Regions from separate parts of the Homo sapiens genome. Here regions 2 and 3 are each linked to region 1. The links come from fine-mapping of genetic effects on gene expression. A gene starts in region 1. Each other region holds a variant in brackets. All regions are shown on one strand. Distances are from middle to middle. Region 1 holds the start of VPS37C (VPS37C subunit of ESCRT-I). Region 2 overlaps LOC124902678 (a long non-coding RNA gene). Region 3 overlaps LINC02954 (long intergenic non-protein coding RNA 2954).

Evidence for each region. PIP is the estimated chance that this variant, and not a neighbour inherited with it, causes the effect.
Region 2: its variant is fine-mapped to the expression of VPS37C in whole blood (TOPMed, PIP 0.96).
Region 3: its variant is fine-mapped to the expression of VPS37C in whole blood (INTERVAL, PIP 0.93).

The regions. Positions count from the first base shown.
Region 1 is chr11:61,158,864-61,165,009 of GRCh38, reverse strand. VPS37C (VPS37C subunit of ESCRT-I) reads left to right here and starts at 3,584. Exons shown (of 5, transcript NM_017966.5): 1 at 3,584-3,619. RefSeq lists enhancers at 2,995-3,134, 3,145-3,194, 2,935-3,527, 3,528-4,121 and a silencer at 3,185-3,944.
Region 2 is chr11:61,180,582-61,186,727 of GRCh38, reverse strand. It overlaps LOC124902678 (a long non-coding RNA gene), which reads right to left. Exons shown (of 4, transcript XR_007062691.1): 2 at 3,558-3,625. Among named protein-coding and RNA genes, the nearest start is that of PGA3, 20 kb to the left of the region's middle. The variant G/A (reference allele first, on the strand shown) is at 2,665.
Region 3 is chr11:61,065,307-61,071,452 of GRCh38, reverse strand. It overlaps LINC02954 (long intergenic non-protein coding RNA 2954), which reads right to left. Exons shown (of 4, transcript NR_186234.1): 4 at 3,856-4,022. All of the region lies in intron 1 of LOC105369325 (a long non-coding RNA gene), which reads left to right. Among named protein-coding and RNA genes, the nearest start is that of LINC02954, 13 kb to the right of the region's middle. The variant G/T (reference allele first, on the strand shown) is at 2,777.

The DNA of each region.
Region 1 (6,146 bases):
TTATCTTGGGCTAGAGATACTTTGTTTTCTCTCCAATCTCAACCAAAAATGTGACATCCTTGAGGCTGGAGAGGGTATCTGTTCATCTGTGTATCCGCAGGTCTTAGCAGTGTGGGTATTCAGTGAATGCATGTGGAATGAACAAAGGAATGAAGTGAATGTGAGAAACAGAGTAAGGTACCCCCTTCTGTAACTGGGGTTGTTTGTGTTTATAACTTCTTAAAAATTTTGCATTAATCAGGGCCACTCCACTTATGAATGAAATTGGGTGTAATTGAGGTATAGAACGTGGGAACATAGGTGTATGTGTGATAAGAGACCAGGACTGGAGGAGGGGCTAGAGCCAAGGGAAGTTGCAAAAGGCCCAAAGTCGAAAATAGCAGGAACCAAATAGAAAGAGCACCCTTTTTCCCAATGCCACTTCCCTCCCATGACTTGAATTTCCTGCAATTTTCTCTTCCTCCCTCCTTCGTCCTAATTCTCTATCTTTGGTTATTCAGGAGGGCCAGCACCCTGTGGCCCCAGAAGATAATGTGGCAACGACTTAGGACACGGAGAGAGAGCGTAGGCAGCAGTGTGTCATTTCCCCTCAACACCCTTGGTAGAATCATCGTGTCTGTCACATTCACAAGTTCTTCTTCTTCTTTTTTTTTTTTTTTTTTAGCGTTAGCAGTTTCCAGCATCTGCATAAAATGATGTATAAAATAGAGTCTCTGCCTGTCCTTAGAGAAGTTACTATCTAGGGGGAGTGAAAGGTCAACTACAGAAAAGTGTAGAGAATGCTAAGAAAGGGCTGAAGGGTGGGGTGTTTGAATAACATACAAGGGGGGAAGTTACCCAGTCTTAGGATATAGGGGCTTTCCAGAAGTAGAGTCTAAGACTTAAAGGGCACAAGTGACAGAAAATCCAAAACAACAGTGACACGAGGTGGTTTATTTCCCTCTCACACAGAGCCCAGAGGCAGCCGTCCAGTGGTGTCATGGTCCTTTACGGAATCAGGGCTCAGGTTCCTTCTATTTTGTTGTGCCACTAGTGTGGCCTCTATTCCTATGGTCGCCTCATGGTTCAAGATGACTACACTTGCTCCAGCCATCATGTCCATGTCCCACCTTCCAACATGGTACTAATCAGTGAAGAGATTGCTGGATATAAACTCAAGCTAATCCATCAATAGTGTTTCCTAATTATTTTCCTTCAGAAATGAAACACATGCAGAGTTAAAAATCACATAGCAGCTGGGCGTGGTGGCTCACGCCTGTAATCTCAGCACTTTGGGAGGCCGAGGTGGGTGGATCACCTGAGGTCAGGAGTTCGAGATCAGCCTGGCAACATGGTGAAACCCTGTCTCTACTAAAAATACAAAGACTAGCCGGGTGTGGTGGTAGGCGCCTGTAATCCCAGCTACTTGGGACGCTCAGGCAGGACAATCACCTGAACCCAGGAGGCGGAGGTTGCAGTGAGCAGAGATCACACCATTGCACTCCAGCCTGGGCAACAAGAGAGAAACTCCGTCTCAAAAAAAAAAAAAAATCACATAGCACAAAAAGGCTTATGACAAAAAATTAAGGTCATCTGCCCTGGCCCTCCCTAACCCTCAGAAACAATTTCAACCTAGCTTTCAAACAGGTGCTGTCAATGGGAGTCACTCTGACATTCTGTACCAAGTGAAATGTTTGCAAAACCAACATGCCCCCGCTCAAAGGAGTCACCAGTGTCTCAGAAGGGTCAGCAGCTGACCTTCTTCATGGACCCCTTCTGTTATAAGAAGGAGTTTTGACAAATTCAGTTTGACAGAGTTTAATTGAGCAAATAATGATTTGTGAATCAGTCAGCCCCCAGAACCAGAATAGGTTCAGAGTGACTCTGAGGCTGCCAGGTGGTTGGATAACATTTAGGGATAGAAAACGGAAAGCAGGTTGGGCGTGGTGGCTCATGCCTGTAATTCCAACACTTTGGGAAGCCGAGGCTGGAGGATTGCTTGAGTCCAGGAGTTCCAGACCAGCCTGGGCAACATAGCGAATCTCCATTTCTATTAAAAAATAATCATTAAAATTTAAAAATAAGAAAAGAAAAAGGAAATAGATGTCCAGAAAACAGAAGCGAGGTACAGAAACAGTTGGACCAGTTATGTAAGCGCAGAACCAGCCCCATCTGGTTCAACTTTGTGTAATAAAGTGGTGAGTTGTTTTTTCAGTTGCCATGATCCCAGGTTGCAAGTTATGTAACCTGAGCGTGCCCAGAAGAACCAAGCATGCAACCACAGGCGCAACCTAAATGCTCAGACCAAAGAACCGGAACAGAATTAAGAAGTAGATACATGGTATAAGCCATGATCTAATCAGATTGAGCCATGGCATCATCCCATGGCAAGATCCAGTCAGATCATTGCTTATTGCAAGATTCAATCAGATCACTGCTCATTACCCTCTGCCTATAACACCTGTCACAGCCCCTGGCTTGGGGAGACAGATTTGAGCATGTCTCCTTCCCAGTTGACTTGCAACAAATCTTTCCCTCTACAAAAACCTGATACTTCGGTGTTTGGCTTTCTGAGGGCAAAGGGATCCAGTTTGGTTCCCTACCAATGACAGATTGACATTTGCCTTATTGGAACAAGGTTTGAACAGGTGGCTGCCTGTGATTGGCTGAAACTCTGTGATTGGTATGAGTAGGATCCAGTTCACTATGTACGGAGAAACCTTTAGGACAAACTTAAGATACGCCAGGAGACAACTTTAGGCTAAACTGGACACTTCTCCCCTTTTGGTCAACCTCTTGATTTTGAGAGGTTGGAAACTTTAGACATTGACATCAGTTACCATTGTAAATAGACTTATTTGGTCTCAAATTCCCCTGGGAAATAGCAGAGCAGTGGGTTTCATAGGTGGGAAAGGGAACAGAATAGAAAAAAAAAAAAAAACACCTGATTAGTTAACATCAGGTCACTTCAGATTCCTTTTTTTAAGGGTTAGAGCAGAGGGGGCTTCCTTATTATGCTGGACTCTCCTGTTTCCAGGGGGGAAGGGAGGAGATGGGGAATACTGGTAATTCTGTAGAATGAATGGGTGGGGGAAAGAGATTAACTAGTAAATGGAAATGAGTGTGTGGTGGCCTTGGGGCTCCTCAGTCTGAGCTCAGCCCATCTGGGGCTCCTCCTAGGTTCTGGGCTTCCATCTGCTTCCCCCTCCTTTTGGGTCCCTCTGAGAAGCCTCCCAAGATCGAGCTGTGTACAGAGCGAGTCCTCGCTGGCCACTCGGAAGGCGGCGGACGTCCGCGCCGGCGCACTAGCCCAGAGCGGCCTGGTCTCCGCCCAGTGGGCGGGGCCTCTTACCGGGGGCGGGGCCGAGGCGTGCGGCGAGCGCTGGAGGGGTCTCGTGGGCGCTCCCGTGGTTGTGGCCCGGGCGGCCGCGAGCGTGTGTGTGTGGCACGATGTCGTGGTAACTCAGAGGCGCGCGAGGCGGGGCGGCCAACGGGGTCGCGGGGCGAGCACGCGCGCCACTGGGGCGCCGGACGTTGCAAGGGGGTCACATCCGGTAGGGGGCGGGCCTGGCGGACCCCGGAAGTGTGGGCGCGGCTGCGGTTTAACCCGCGGTGGCGGCGGCGACGGCGGCCCTGGCAGGTGAGCGGAGACTGGGGAGGGTCCCGGCTCTGCCGCAGGCGGGCGGGGCAGAGGACGACGGTGGGGGCGGCGCCGGCCGTGGCTCCCGGAGCGCCCCCGCCTGCCCGCCTCATCCTGGCAGAGGCCGGTGATTGGGCACGAGGGGCGCGTGACTCTCGCCGGGGGCCGGCGCCCCTGCCCCTCGCGGTGGGAGGGAGGGAGGGAGAGCGCGAGGCGCCGCCCCGGCTCCCCGGCGGGTCGCACCTCCAGTTCCGCCCCACCACTCACCGCCACCCTCCTTTCTGCGTCTCTGCAGGCCCTCGTCCCATATGTGAGCATCTTGCGGTCACAATTCTGATGACATTAGAGCCAATTAGCCCATTGTATAGATGGGGAAGCTGAGGCCTAAGAGTAGGGTCCGACTTGCCAGAGGGCACGCGGGAGACGAGTGGCAGAGGGGAGGTTGGAGGGACTTTGCTCTGTGACTTACTGGCTTGTGCCCTTTCTCCAGGGCATTGAGAGATGGGAGTTTCAGCTTTGGCTTTGTTCAGGACTCAGACTTGGACCTCCCAGCATCACTGAACATTTCTTACCCCGGGACCCTCTGGGCGCAAAGGGCACTGATGTATACATACCCATTATATGCCTGGTTCCTCTTCATTTCCTCCTCAGCCGATGAGGCGATTTCCCACTTTACGGATGGGAGAAGGAGTTAACTGGAGGTGTTTTGTGAGTTACTGGCAGAGTGGACTCTACAACCTGGGGTTTTAGTCGCTGAGCTGAGGCAGTGCTTTCCCAGCTACACCTTGTCTGGGCTCACTTACCCTGGGAATGTCAGTCTTCAGCTCCAGAAACTTCCCACTCATTTCCCTTCGCTCCAGCGGTACCTCAGTTCTCTTGCTGCCTAAGGCCTTTTCCACCCTCTTTATTGGCTCCAGGAGTCCCATTTCCTACTAATGCACCAAGATGCTGCCACCAGACTCTCAGTTCTGTGACTTTTGGCCTTAGAGCTGGAGGTGGTGGTGACCGAGGAACTGGGGAAAGAAAGACTCTTACTTTGTTGTCCAAAGCTGCAACCCTGCAGACACCTGAACTCTGTAGTTCCGGGTGGGATCGGGGACTGTTGCAATGAAAATACTGGACGCTAAACTGAGTCTTTGTTCTTTGCGGTCATAGTGCCCAGAAAAGCCTTTTACCTAGATTATCTTGGAAATGTGGTTCCGTGCCTTTGTAATTTCCATTAAGTAGAACATTTTCATTGTAGACTTTCTGAGCAGTTTCTGGCCGCTGTTTTGCAGGTAGCAATAGCTGTGATTTGTTGCTTGGCTTCATATGCTGGGCACTGTTCTAGGGCTTTCTGAACATACCGAATTTTGCGAACATGTCCAAATAGGTGATGATCCCGTTTTACAGATGAAGTGAGTTGCGGAGATGTTAGATAACCTGGCTAGTGTCACACAGCCAGTAAGTGGCCAAGTTTGGATTTTTTTTTTTTTTTTTTTTTTTTTTTGAGACGGAGTCTTGATCTGTCGCCCAGGCTGGAGTGAAGTGGTGTGATCTCAGCTCACTGCAACCTCCGCCCCCTGGTTCAAGCGATTCTCCTGCCTCAGCCTCCCAAGTAGCTGGGATTATAGGTGCCCACCACCACGCCCGGCTAATTTTTGTATTTTTTATTTATTTATTTATTTATTTTTTTTTGAGACGGAGTCTCGCTCTGTCGCCCAGGCTGGAGTGCAGTGGCGGGATCTCGGCTCACTGCAAGCAATTTTTGTATTTTTTAGTAGAGACGGGGTTTCACCATGTTGGCCAGGCTGGTCTCGAACTCCTGAGCTCAGGTGATCCACCCGCTTTGGCCTCCCAAAGTGCTAGGATTACAGGTGTGAGCCACTGCGTCTGGCCACAAGTGAGATTTGTAACCCATCAGTCTTATTTCGAAGTTAATGTGCTTTTAACTCTGTGATACTGCCTCTCAGACCGTTTAGTTTCCCAAAGGTGCTGGACCTTAAGAATAATTTCTGATGCTTGTTAAAAATACAGAGCTCCACCTCTAGAGATTCTTGGGCTATTGTCTGGAGGAGGGCCCAGAAATCTATTAACAAATGCACTGGGTGATTCTTACGGTAAGGCAAGTTTGGGAAACACTGCCTTTAAGAACTTTGTAGATTTGCTGGGCCACTGGTAGCTTGGAAGTGACATTATTCCTGAGGATTCTTGTTTTCTTTTTGTTTATTGCTTTGAAATTTGTTAATTTGCCCTTAAAAAGCCTTTGGGTTAACTAGCCATATGAATCATTTCTGGACACTCTTGGCCAGTAATAGTAGGGGTTTTCCAGGCTGACAAAATTAGATCACTCAAGACCTGATTTAATGGATTTAGCTCTTTTAATCCAGCTGGATCTCTGTTGTGTGGAAATTCTGTTAGAAGTGTCCTTGAAGGATGTGGCGTTTCCACAAGGTTTTGGTCTGTTCCCAGGTGCTTACCGAATGACAGAGAGGTGTCTAATGGCAGCACTGTCTGAGGTTTTGCTAGCTGTAAAGGCATGTTTACT
Region 2 (6,146 bases), 22 kb before region 1:
TTCCAAGGTCACGTGACTCGTACATATCAGTGCTGGGGTTTGAACTCGGGCAGAAAGGCTCTGGGCCCCGCATGCCTGGCTACTTGCAGACATCATGATCCTTTGCTCCTAAATCTTTAGTGTGTGTCTCCAAGGACATTTGCTTACATGGGCAATGTCACACTGTTCACATGCAGAAAGTCTAACATTGATGTGCGCTCAGCAAGACTGGGGTCATGTGACTTAAGATGGCTGCAGAAAAAAACAAATTAAAAATATTTTTTAGGAAAGGTCAGGTGTGGTGACTCACACTCGTAATCCCAGCACTTTGGGAGGCTGAGGCAGAACGATTGCTTGAGCCTATGAGTTCAAGACCAGCCTGGGCAACATGATGAGACATCGTTTCTACAAAAAAAATCACAAAAAAATTAGCCAGACGTGGTGGCACGTGCCTGTAGGCCCAGCTACTCCGGAGGGTGAGATAGAACTGCTTGAACCCAGGAGATTGATGCTGCAGTGAGCTGTAATCATGCCACTGCGTTTCAGCCTGGGCAACGGAGTGAGACCCTGTCTCAAAAAAATAAAAACATAAATAAAAGAATAAAAAAAAGGCCGGGTGTAGTGGCTCACGCCTGTAATCCCAGCACTTTCGGAGGCCAAGGCAGGAGGATAACTTGAGCTCAGGAGTTTGAGACCAGCCTTGGCAACATATTGAGACCCTGTTACTCTAAAAAAAAAAAAAATTTTTTTTTAAAGAAAAGAAGAAACAAAAAAGATAAAAAACCAAAAAGATGGCTGCATGATTGTCTACCTATGCTGGGGCACTCTGCTTAACAGACACTGGGAGGCTCCGGATTTTCCCTTGTGTAAGAGACTCTGAAGATTACATCCCTGCTCATATATGTTTCTGGGCATTTCTGACCATTGAGTTAGCCTAAATCCTGAAAGCAAAATTGCTGGGACAAAGACCACACTTTTTATTTTTTTTATTTTTTTGAGACGGAGTTTTGTTCTTGTTGCCCAGGCTGGAGTGCAGCGGTGCGACCTCGGCTCACCACAACCTCCGCCTCCTGGGTTCAAGCGATTCTCCTGCCTCAGCCTCCCGAGTAGCTGAGATTACAGGCATGCACCACCCAGGCCTGGCTAATTTTGTATTTTTAGTAGAGATGGGGTTTCTTGACGTTGGTCAGGCTGGTCTTGAACTCCCCACCTCAGGTGATCCACCCGCTTTGGCCTCCCAAAGTGCTGGGATTACAGGCGTGAGCCACCGCGCCCGGCCTGGCCATACACATTTTAAGAACAAATCAACTCCAAAAAGGCTGTATCAATTTACACTCACAAGAAGTGTCCAAAAGCTGTCTTTTAAAAAAAAAGTGTTTTATTTCTTAATATGCTTTAATGCTTTTTTCACTTTCCCCAAATTATAAACTGTAGGCTAATGACACCACCTAGAACTAAGGACGTTTACTCAACACAATCTACTGATAGACGTTATAGTCACTCGCTGTAATTTCTTCTCACTTCTTAAGAAACAGCATAAAAATAATGAGAAGAATAGGCTGAGATTCTTTTCAGAAGATTAGAAATGAATCCCAGGCAATGTTCATGAATAATAAAAAGCCTCCCAAGCTTAAGGACTCTGATGCAAAACCGGAATTGGGAATGATATACTCAGTTATCTTTTCGAGCTTCCATACAACACAGAGATCCTACAATCCAAAAACGTTTTAAAGAGAGACATTTTTAATTTTGATAAGAACCATCTTTTTCTCCACATTCTCTCTCAACAAAGTTTATGAATCTCTTTGGTCTGCAGTTGGTAAAGGATAAAAGTGGAGGGGGCAGAATTCTGCTTTGTTATTTACATTTATTTTATTTTATTTTTCTTAGAGACAGGGTCTTGCTGTGTTGCCCAAGCTGGAGTGCAGTGGCATGATCACAGCTCACTGCAGCCTCAATCTCCTGGGCTCAAGCGATCCCTCCCACCTCCGCCTCCCCAAATGCTAGGATCCCTCCCACCTCCGCCTCCCCAAATACAGGCATGCACCACCATGCCTGGCCAGGGTTTTGCCTTGAAGATCAGAATTCATCCTCATGCTGTGGGCACAGGTTACAAATATAGAACCTCAAAAAGAGTTTTATTTATTTATTTATTTATTTTATTATTATTATTTTTTGAGACAGGGTCTCACTCTGTCTCCCGGTCTAGAGGGCCATGGTGGGATCTCGGCTTACTGCAACCTCCGCCTTCTGGGTTCAAGTGACTCTCATGCCTCAGCCTCCCAAGTAGCTGGATTACAGGTGTGCACTACCATGCCCAGCTGATTTTTTGTATATTTAGTAGGGACTGGGTTTCAATGTGTTGGTCAGGCTGGTCTCGAACTCCTGGCCTCAAGTGATTCGCCTGCCTTGACCTCCAACAGTGCTGGGATTACAGGCATGAGCCCTGCCTCCAAAAGAGTTTAACTCCCTCCCTCTCACCGCTGCACTTGATGAGTCTTTAAAAAAAAAGTTTGAATCATTAATAGACACCAGCTCCAGCCTGTGGCGTGGAAATCTTCCCCTGGCTCCCTGAAGACAAAGACAGACATTTAAGGGTGCAAACCCTGACCAGCACGCTGTCACCTCTCAATAATACAAAAATTAGCCAGGCGTGGTAGTGCACACCTGAAATCCCAGTTACTC[G/A]GGAGGCTGAGGCAGGGGAATCACTTGAATCTGGGAGGTGGAGGTTGCAGTGAGCTGAGATCACGCCATTGCACTCCAGCCTGGGCAAGACTCTATCTCAAAAAAAAAAAAGTGTGATTGAACAAAAAGGGAATGATCTAGTGTTGATAGACTGAGTGGAGAAGCCCAGAAATGCCCGTCTGTTGAGATTCTTCTTGGTCTCTCTGTGCAGCATTCCTTCCTCCAGGGTATGGGGCAGGACTCCTCTGAAGTGGAGTTTTATGACCTGCAGTCGGCCAGTCAGAGAATTTCTTTATGAACAGAGGCAGGGGAAGATTAGAATATATTTTTAGGTGCTAAGGCCTGCCTTAGAGAGAAAAAGGAGCAGGTGAAAAGAAGGCCGAAGGAGGTCAGGGAGAAAGATTCTGTTTTCTGGGGCCTGGTTAGAAGCCTAACACACTCCAACCTCATAACAAAAGACAGTAACAAGGGCTATGCGGGTTATGAGCCAGGAACTGTGGATGAAAACTGATGTGTGTTTATACATATACATATATATAAACACACATTTTATATATATACACATAAAATAAAAAGTCAAAAGTCTGGATATTTATGTGAAATCCCTGATCTTTAGCTGTTAGCAGCTAATTAATTTGTTTTTCAAGAAACATAGTGTGGGCCAAAACTTAAGCAACTGTGGGATGTGTAGGTTTTTATTTCTGGCCTAGAGTTGGGAGTAGAAAGGGGGCTAGAAAGGGAGGGTGTAGAGGGCTAGAAAGGGAGAGTAGAAAAGGGGTAGAAAGGGAGGGTGTTCAATTCATGTTTGTTGAATGAATAACACATGGAATGCATTGATTTTCCTTCCACTTGTAAAGAAAGACTACCAGGGTCAGATAAACCAACTGACTTACTGAGAACTCCCACTTGATGAGCACCCGCTGTAATTCCCCTGATAGGATCCAGGCTGGAAACATTTTGTCTGCCAAATAAAAAGAAATAATTAAAGTGTATTGCTAATCAAAAGAGACAAAAAAAGAACCACTAGGAGCTTCTGCTTGCCTGAGATGAGAAGAGCTACCTTCTTAAACTGGCATTATTCCAGGCGAAGGAAAGAAAATGGAATGGTGTGGCTCCTTCTGGGACTTCCAGGGCCCTCATGTTCCCATACAAGATCCAGATCCAGTCTGTGCCCATCTTGGGTAGAGCAATGCCAAGGCTGATCTGATCCCCAGGGTTGGGTTGCAAGTGACTTGGGGGCTCTGTATCTTTTTTTTTTTTTTTTCTGACACAGGGTCTACCTCTGTCACTCAGGCTGGAGTGAAGTGGCACAATCAATCTCTGCTCACTGCAACCTCTGCCTCCCTGGCTCAAGCAGTCCTCCCACCTCAACCTTCCTCGTAACTGGGACTACAGGCATGCGCCACCATGCCCAGCTAATTTTTGCATTTTCTTTTGTAGAGACAGGCTTTTGCCATGTTGTTCAGCCTGGTCTTGAACTGGGCTCAAGTTATCCTCCTGCCTTGGCCTCCCAAAGTGCTGAGATTACAGGGATAAGCCACAGCGCCTGGCTGGGGTTCTGTGTCAGTTTTACCCCTACTGCCCAAATTTGTCAACATGGGATATCACAGGACATCAGCTTATTAGTAGACGTAGGGAAACTATAATCAATACTTATGTTAATTTTTTCTATATGAACTATATTTTGGGTAATCACAAATAGTTGACTAAAAAGTTTTTTTTCAAACATCAGTTTAAGGAATAAGGAAAAAAAGTTGTTTTATTAAAAAATTCCTGGCTGCGTGTGGCGGCTCACACCTGTAATCCCAGCACTTTGGAAGGCTGAAGTGGGTGAATCACTTGAGGCCAGGAGTTCGAGACCAGCATGGCCAATATGGCAAAACCCTGTCTCTACTAAAAATATAAAAATTAGCTGGGCATGGTGGCGCATGCCAGTGATCCCAGCTACTCAGGAGGCTGAGGCTGGAGAATCGCTTGAGGCCGGGAGGCAGAGGTTACAGTGAGCCAAGATTGTGCCATTGCATTCCAGCCTGGGTGACAGAGCAAGACTTTTTCTCAAAAAAAAAAAAAAAAAAAAAAAAAAAAAAAGCAAGGGGGACCTATAGCGATGGCAACTCTTGCTCTAACTGGTTCCTCTCTGCCTCTCTGCAAAGGTTACAAGGTTAACAGAGTCTCCTCTTTTATTAAAAACCCAATAATCCTGGCCAGGCATGATGACTTACACCTGTAATCCCAACACTTTGGGAAGTCAAGACAAGAGGATGGCTTGAACCTGGGAGGTTGAGGATGCAGTGAGCTATGATGGTGCCACTGCTCTTCAGCCTGTGTGACAGAGCGAGGCCCTGTCTCAAAATAAATAAATAAATAAATAAATAAATAAATAATAAATTCCAATGATTAAATTCAGAAGGAATGGTAGAATTTGGAACTCATTGTTTTGCAACTTCTAATGAAACAATGGATCTAGGGCAAAAATCATCAACAGATGCCAAAACCGTAAGGTGGAAGGTTGAAGGGTAAGTTCAGGATTGGATGGATTAGGTTGATAACACCAGGACCCGCGGATTAATCTAGCATCTGTAAGAGTGAGACAGTCAGAAATTATGTGCTTCTTTATGTGATACAATAGGGAATATATGGAACTACCTAAGAAGTATTTTAATTAAAATTTTGAATTCAAGTCTAGATCTCATGACCAGGCATAGGAAATAATGTAGGTAAAGGAACAAAAAAACAATCATTCAAATCCCATACGTGGGACATCCTGTAGGACAAATGACCTCTCCATGCTCCCCCTACTTAAAAAAACAGACTTTACTTTTTAGAGCAGTTTTAGCTTCACTGCAAAATTGAGCAGAAGGTACAGAGATTTCCCATATATCCATGCCACCCCACCTCACATGCACAGCCTCTCCATTATTAATATCTTGCCCCAGAGTGGTACATTTGTTACAATTGATTAACCTACGATGATGCTTCATTATTACCCCAAGTCCATGGTTTACGTTAAGATTCACTCTTGGCATTGAACATTCTATGGGTTTGGACAAATGTGTGATAGGTACCCACCATTATGATATTATACAGAAGGCCGGGCATGGTGGCTCATGCCTGTAATCCCAGCACTTTGGGAGGCCGAGGCAGGTGGATCACCTGAGGTCAGGAGTTCAAGACCAGCCTGACCAACATGGTGAAACCGCATCTCTCCTAAAAATACAAAAATTAGCCATGCATGGTGGTGGATGCCTGTAATCTCAGCTACTCGGGAGGCTGAGGCATGAGAATCGCTTGAACTGGAGAGGCAGAGGTTGCAGTGAGCCAAGACTGCGCCATTGCACTCCAGCCTGGGCAACAAGAGTAAAACTCCATCTCATACACACACATGCACACAAAATAAAGAACAGCTTCACTACTCTGTGCTCTGCCTATTCATCCTTCCCTCCCACCAGCCCCTGGTTACCACTGATTGTTTTACTGTCTCC
Region 3 (6,146 bases), 94 kb after region 1:
AGTCCTCACCTCTGGTGGGTGTCTCTCCTCCCTCAGAGCCGCCACCACCACCAGCTCTGCAGGAAGTGGTTCTTTTCTCTCTGTTTCTCCCCCCTCAGTCACACACAGAGGCTTGGATGGAGGTGTCAGGCCCTCAGCTTCGGAGGCTTAGAGGCTGCCTTCAGTGGGCAGGTGCTGGGTCTGGCTGGAGAGAGGGCCCTGGTGGGCTTGGCCCATCGGGGAAGTCTCTGGAGCATTTAAATTTGTTTTTCTAAAATGCATGCACCTTTACTGTTTTATTTACTAAAAATATTGATATATGCTAGTCGTAAAATTATTCATAGTGGAACAGGAATGAAAAGAAATTAAAAACTGTGTAATCAAAAACTCAGCTGAATGTAAGAAAACCCAGTTCCCCTTGAGGAAGAGAAAGGGCTGGAGTCCTTTAAAATTAACTGCCTGTTTTTCTTTCTGTGGCCAGTGAGACTTATCTCTCCCTTTCCCAGGCATTGTGAAGACTCTGTTTCTCTAGCTGTGCAGCTTCAAGGTCACTTGACAGATAATCTCAAGTCGTAAAACATGTTGTTCCTTAAAAAGTAAGAAATGATGTAATGCATGTCTCAGTTGAATAACTGTCTTTGTTTCTCACTTCTGTAATATGCTTCCCTCTGCACAGATTACCCCCCCCGCCCCCGCCCAACAAAATGCTTAAAAGGTAACCGGACTCTTTGTTTGGGGCTCAGTCCTTTGGATGTTAATCCGACTGGTTTGGTGCACCTAAATAATTACATAATTCTTCCTCAACCCCTCAGTCTCTCTGATTCCTTAATTATCCCACAGCAATAGAATACAGAAAAGAATGAAAAAGAGAGTGAGCTCCCTCTAGGCTCACTAGCAGCAGTCACCATTACTGCACCTGATATACTTCCTCCTAGACACTTTTTTTTTCTTTGAGATGGAGTCTTGCTCTGTTGCCCAGGCTGGAGTGCAATGGTGCGATCTTGGCTCACCGCAAGCTCCGCCTCTCGGGTTCATGCCATTCTCCTGCCTCAGCCTCCCTAGTAGCTGGGACTACAGGTGCCCGCCACCACACTCAGCTAATTTTTTGTATTTTTTAGTAGAGATGGGGTTTCACCGTGTTAGCCAGGATGGTCTCAATCTCCTGACCCTGTGATCCACCCACCTCGGCCTCCCAAAGTGCTGGGATTACAGGTGTGAGCCACCACGCCTGGCCCTAGACACTTTTCTTTGCAAACACGTACATTTAAAAAAAACACACACACACGAATGGGCCCATACAACACAGAATTTTAGGCTCAATGTCATTGCCGGCTTTCCGAGTTAGGAAATGTAGGTGCACATTCATTGTTTTCAAGGGAGTCATGGCGTATAAATCCCATTCCCCTATCTGGGGACACTGAGAAGGTTTCCATTGTCCTCCTCTCACCAGCACTGCTCTGCCAAGCACCCCGTATAGCTAACCCTCACTGTTCTGTGTACACTCTTTCCCTGATGGCTTTGCAATAAACCTCTAGGTGTAGGGCTATGGGGTCATGGGGACATGCACTTAAAAAGCTCAGGGTATTATTGCCTCCTGTGTTTTCAGCAGAATCTGCTTTAGGTTGGTTGAGGGGAACCCAAACAGAATCCCCTTCTGTCCTCCCAGGCCCCCTTGAACCCTTTAATCCCTTCTGCACCCCCTCCCCAGTCCCAGTCTTCTTGTTGCTGGTGGACTCATTTTCCCCTGTTGCAAGAGCCTCACTGGTTTTGTCTGTCCTCCATCCAGCACCGTCGTTGTCATCACGATTGGCTTGCAGTGCTGGCCTGGAGGAAGCAGGTGGTAGGGACAGGGTGAATCTGAGCAATGACCAAGCTTGCTGTCAGGATGGGTGTTCTCCTCCCTTCTAAGCTGTGTGTCTTTGGGCTGTTGCCTGGCTCTCCCAGCCTACGCAACAAGGATGCTGAAACCTTACAGGGCTTCAAAGCTATTTGTACATTGTCAAAGGCAGGGCAGATGTGAGGGAGACAGATGATGAAGGAGGCAAGAGGCATCTTGAGGCTTGGAACTGATGGATCTCTTGTTCCCACCACTAAGGGGACACAGGGACCTGCTGGAGACACACTGGGTACCTGGAGTTCTGCCCTGAGGGGGGCACTGAGGGGCCAGAAGAAAGGGGGAGAGCTTTGCTGTCAAGCCTGTGGTTCCAGAGGGAGGTCACTGATCCTGATTCATTCACTTATTCAATAACTTACTAGGTGCCTGCTATGCACGAGGCACTGTCCTTGGTGTTGGGAGACATGGCAAGAACAAAACAGACCCCAAACTTTCCTGCCCTCATGCTCCTTACAGTCTAACCTGGGGCAACTGACAATGAACAAAATAAATAAGTAAAAATATATTGTGTGTCCAGTGGCAATAAATGCTACGGAAGAGACTAAAACAGGAGAAGAGAAGGGGGAAGGGGGAGGGAGGGGTGGCGATTTAAATAGGGCTGTCCAGGAAGGCTCCACCCAAGGCGAGGAAGGGAGTTGAGGGCTCTCCAGGGGAAGAGCCTTCCAGCCCAGGACCAGCAAAGGCCCTGAGGCTGTCCAGTGTGTCCGATGGCCAGCGTGACCCAAGTGGTGTGAGCAGGTAGAGCAGTAGGCTGTGAGGTGGGAGACGTCATGGGTGCCTTTTACATGGGATCACTCCACATCCAGCAGGGAGAACACCCGGAAGGGAATGAGGGCAGGAAGCAGGAAGGCAGGTGAGGAGGCAGAGAGGACGGTGGCCAGGATCAGGGCGGTCGCAGTGGAG[G/T]GGGTGGGAGGTGGCCAGAGTCTGACTACATCTCGAAGGCAGAACCCATAGGATTTCTGGCTGGATTGCAGCTGGGATGTGAGAGAAAGAGGAGTCACAGGTGACACCACAGTTTTTGGCCAGAGCACCTGGAAGGATGGAGAAGCCCTGTCTTGAGATAGGGATGGTCAGGAGTTTGCTTTTGGCCATATGACACTTGAGATGCTCTCGGACACCCAAGTGGAGATGCTGAGCAGACAGGGCTGGGTATGAGTCTGGGGCCCAAGGTGGGTGGGGAGAAAGAGAGAGAGAGAGAGATCCAAGCTGGGAACATATTGGTGTTACCACGGTGGATTGGGAGGGATGGGGGTCGTTGGCAGCAGCGCACGTGAAGTCACTGCCACTGCCTGGCCTTTCTCTGCCCCTCAGTCGTGCCTCAGAGAAGAGAGGCAGACATATCTGCCCCGGAGCCCACCCAACTTGGCCCGCCTGCCATTCCCCTCCCCACCTCCCCTCCTGCCTTCCTTTCGTAGTCACCTGTTGTCTAAGTGTGGGCTGGGGGAGGGCGTTGCTGTTTTGGGTTCTCTCTGCCCCCCACTGAACAGAGGAGAGTGCACGGGAGGCCATCAACGCCAGCCCCATCAATCTCGAAAACTAGGTCACGCTGGAGCCTGGGGCCTCCACACTGGGCTCCAGCCACATCTGTCATTGACCTGAGACTCATGCATCCCTGCTCCTGGCAGGCACCATCTGTCACCCACAGCTCCTCTGTCTGTGCTCAGGATGCAGAATGGCCGACTCCTTTGCTGGTTCCAAGCACAGGCCATGGAAAGGGGCCTTGTGTTCATTGCATTTTTCACAGAGAGACTTATTCCCCAGGCTGACTGTCCACTGTGACCACCAGGAAGTTCAGTGGGTTTGCAAGGGCCCCAGTCTCCTATTTCAAGCTATCCTCCTGCCTGGGCCTCCCAAAGTGTTGGGATTATAGGCATGAGCCACTGTGCCCAGCCATAATCAGTGCTTCATACCATCAGATCTGGTATGTGGATTGAAACCTGTTTGTTAACTCGGATCTACACAGAGCCAAGCAGTACAAGAACTTGGAAACTTGGTTGAGTTTTTTAATCTTTTATCCAGGTTTTATCCAGGTTTTAACCTAGATGCTCACTGGGTAGAATTTAAGAGCTCAGGGAAGATTCAGAACCCAGGCAAAACTGTTTCTGGCTGAAGCTTTTCGTCATTTGATCAAGCATATGTAAGGTTAGCTCTGAAAAAGAAGTGTAAACACTGTTAATGATTTTTAAAAATGTAAAACTTTTTTTATATATATTGCATGCACACACACGCCCACACACCCACACACACATACACCGTGTAACCTCCACCCAGCTCAAGATCTAGAACATTTTCATCCCCCATTAAGGTTCCCTAGAGCCTCTCCTATCAGCCGCCCCCTCCCACCAAGAGCTAAGCACTGTTCTGGTCTCTCACTATGGGTCTGTTCTCCAGCTTTCCGTAAGTAGTGTTTTGAATTGCAGCGTATGGACTCTTCTGTGCCTGGCCTCTTCAGCTCCTCATTATACCCATGAAATTCATCCGTGTTTGAGTGTAGCAGGAGTTCCTGCTTTTTAGTTGCTGTGTTGTGCTTTATTGTATGAATACCACATTTTTTTAGTGCTAATGATTTTACTTAAGCAACCTGAAGACGTAGATACTGTGTCTTTTTCAGGATTGTAGCCACAGAGCCTGGCACGGACTTTGTCGAATGAATGAATGAATGAATGAATGAATGAATTGCATTATTGCTCTTACTTTCAGTGGGCTTTAGCCGGGGCTGGGTTCTATCCTCACAGTGTGGCATTGTCACCATATTCATAGACTGCCTCTCGGTCATGCTGGGCTTCTCTATCGAGGGCCTAGTAGTTGCTCATGAAAAGCTCTGGGGAGGACCTCTGGTCCGCAGTCCCTGCCCCACCCCTGCTCTGGCCAGGGCCTGTCCTCTCTATCAGCCCCGTGGCAGAGCACCACCTTGTTATAATCCTGGTTCTGGGGTTGCTTGAGCAATTAACTGATGTGAGCCCTTTCCTTACCTTGGGGAAAGGGATGGAGACATTCCTGTATCGTGTAACCTGAAGTCATCAATGCTTGCTGCAGGGGGGAGGTGCCCAAATCAGAGAGAGGGACTGGACCCAGAGCCCCGCTGTGTGACAGTGGCCACACCACTGCCCTCTCTGGGCCTTGCTTCCCTCAGCACAGAGAGCCTGGCTTTGTCTCACTTCGAGTTCTTTCAGGGCTTTGGTTCACCTTTGCCACAGTTGGCTTGGGAGCCTGTAGGATGGGACAGGTGGGTGATGTTCCAGAATGTTCTGCCTCTGTTAGCTGTTGGGATGGGCCAATGGATCCCGAAGCTGCGGTCCCAGAGTTGCCTCTCCTGGCAGAAACCTGTTGCTCAGCCACGCATGTTGCCGATTGGGCCACATCCCCCAGCTCTGCCCCGGCCCTCGTCTTTGATGGTGAAATGTGAAATCAGGAAGCGGCGAGCTCTTGAGTGAAGTTGTATCGAAATGAATCCATCAAGGCAAATGGGATCTTGATTTTTCTTCTGTTCCGTGGTTGCTGTTTCCTGAGTTGGAAACGCGAAAGGTGACAGGGTGCTTTCAATAGAAAACGGAGTGAGATGGATGATGGAGTGAACGTGGAGTGGGCATGCGAACATGAGGCCCTTGGTGGGGAAACGGGTGCCTCCGACAGGCACTGCACCTTCCAGCTGCGTGCACTGAGGCTGGTCTACGCAGGCCAGACATCTGGGGGGGCCCAAGTGAAGAGAGGCAGAATGTCTAGGTCAAGTTTGTCCAACCCGCATCCCAGGACGGCTTTGAGTGTGGCCCAACACAAATTTGTAAACTTTCTTAAAACATTACGAGATTTTTGTGTGTGTGAATTTTTAGCTTATCAGCCATCGTTAGTGTCAGTATATTTCTTTTTTCTTTTCTTTTTGTTTTGTTTTGTTTTGAGATGGAATCTCACTCTTGTCGCCAGACTGGAGTGCAGTGGCGTGATCTCAGCTCACTGCAACCTCTGCCTCCTGGGTTCAAGGGATTCTCCGGCCTCAGCCTCCCGAGTAGCTGGGATTACAGACGCCAGCCATCATGCCCAGCTACTTTTTGTATTTTCAGTTGAGACGGCCAGGCTGCATGTTGGCTAGGCTGGTGTTGAACTCCTGACCTCAGGTGATCCGCCCGCTTTGGCCTCCCAAAGTGCTGGGATTACAAGCATGAGCCACCGCGCCCTGCCGTGTCAGTGTATTTCATGCGTGGCCCAAGATAATTCTCCCAGTGTGGCCCACGGAAGCCAAAAGCTTGGACAACCCTGGCCTAGGTGTTTTGTCTAC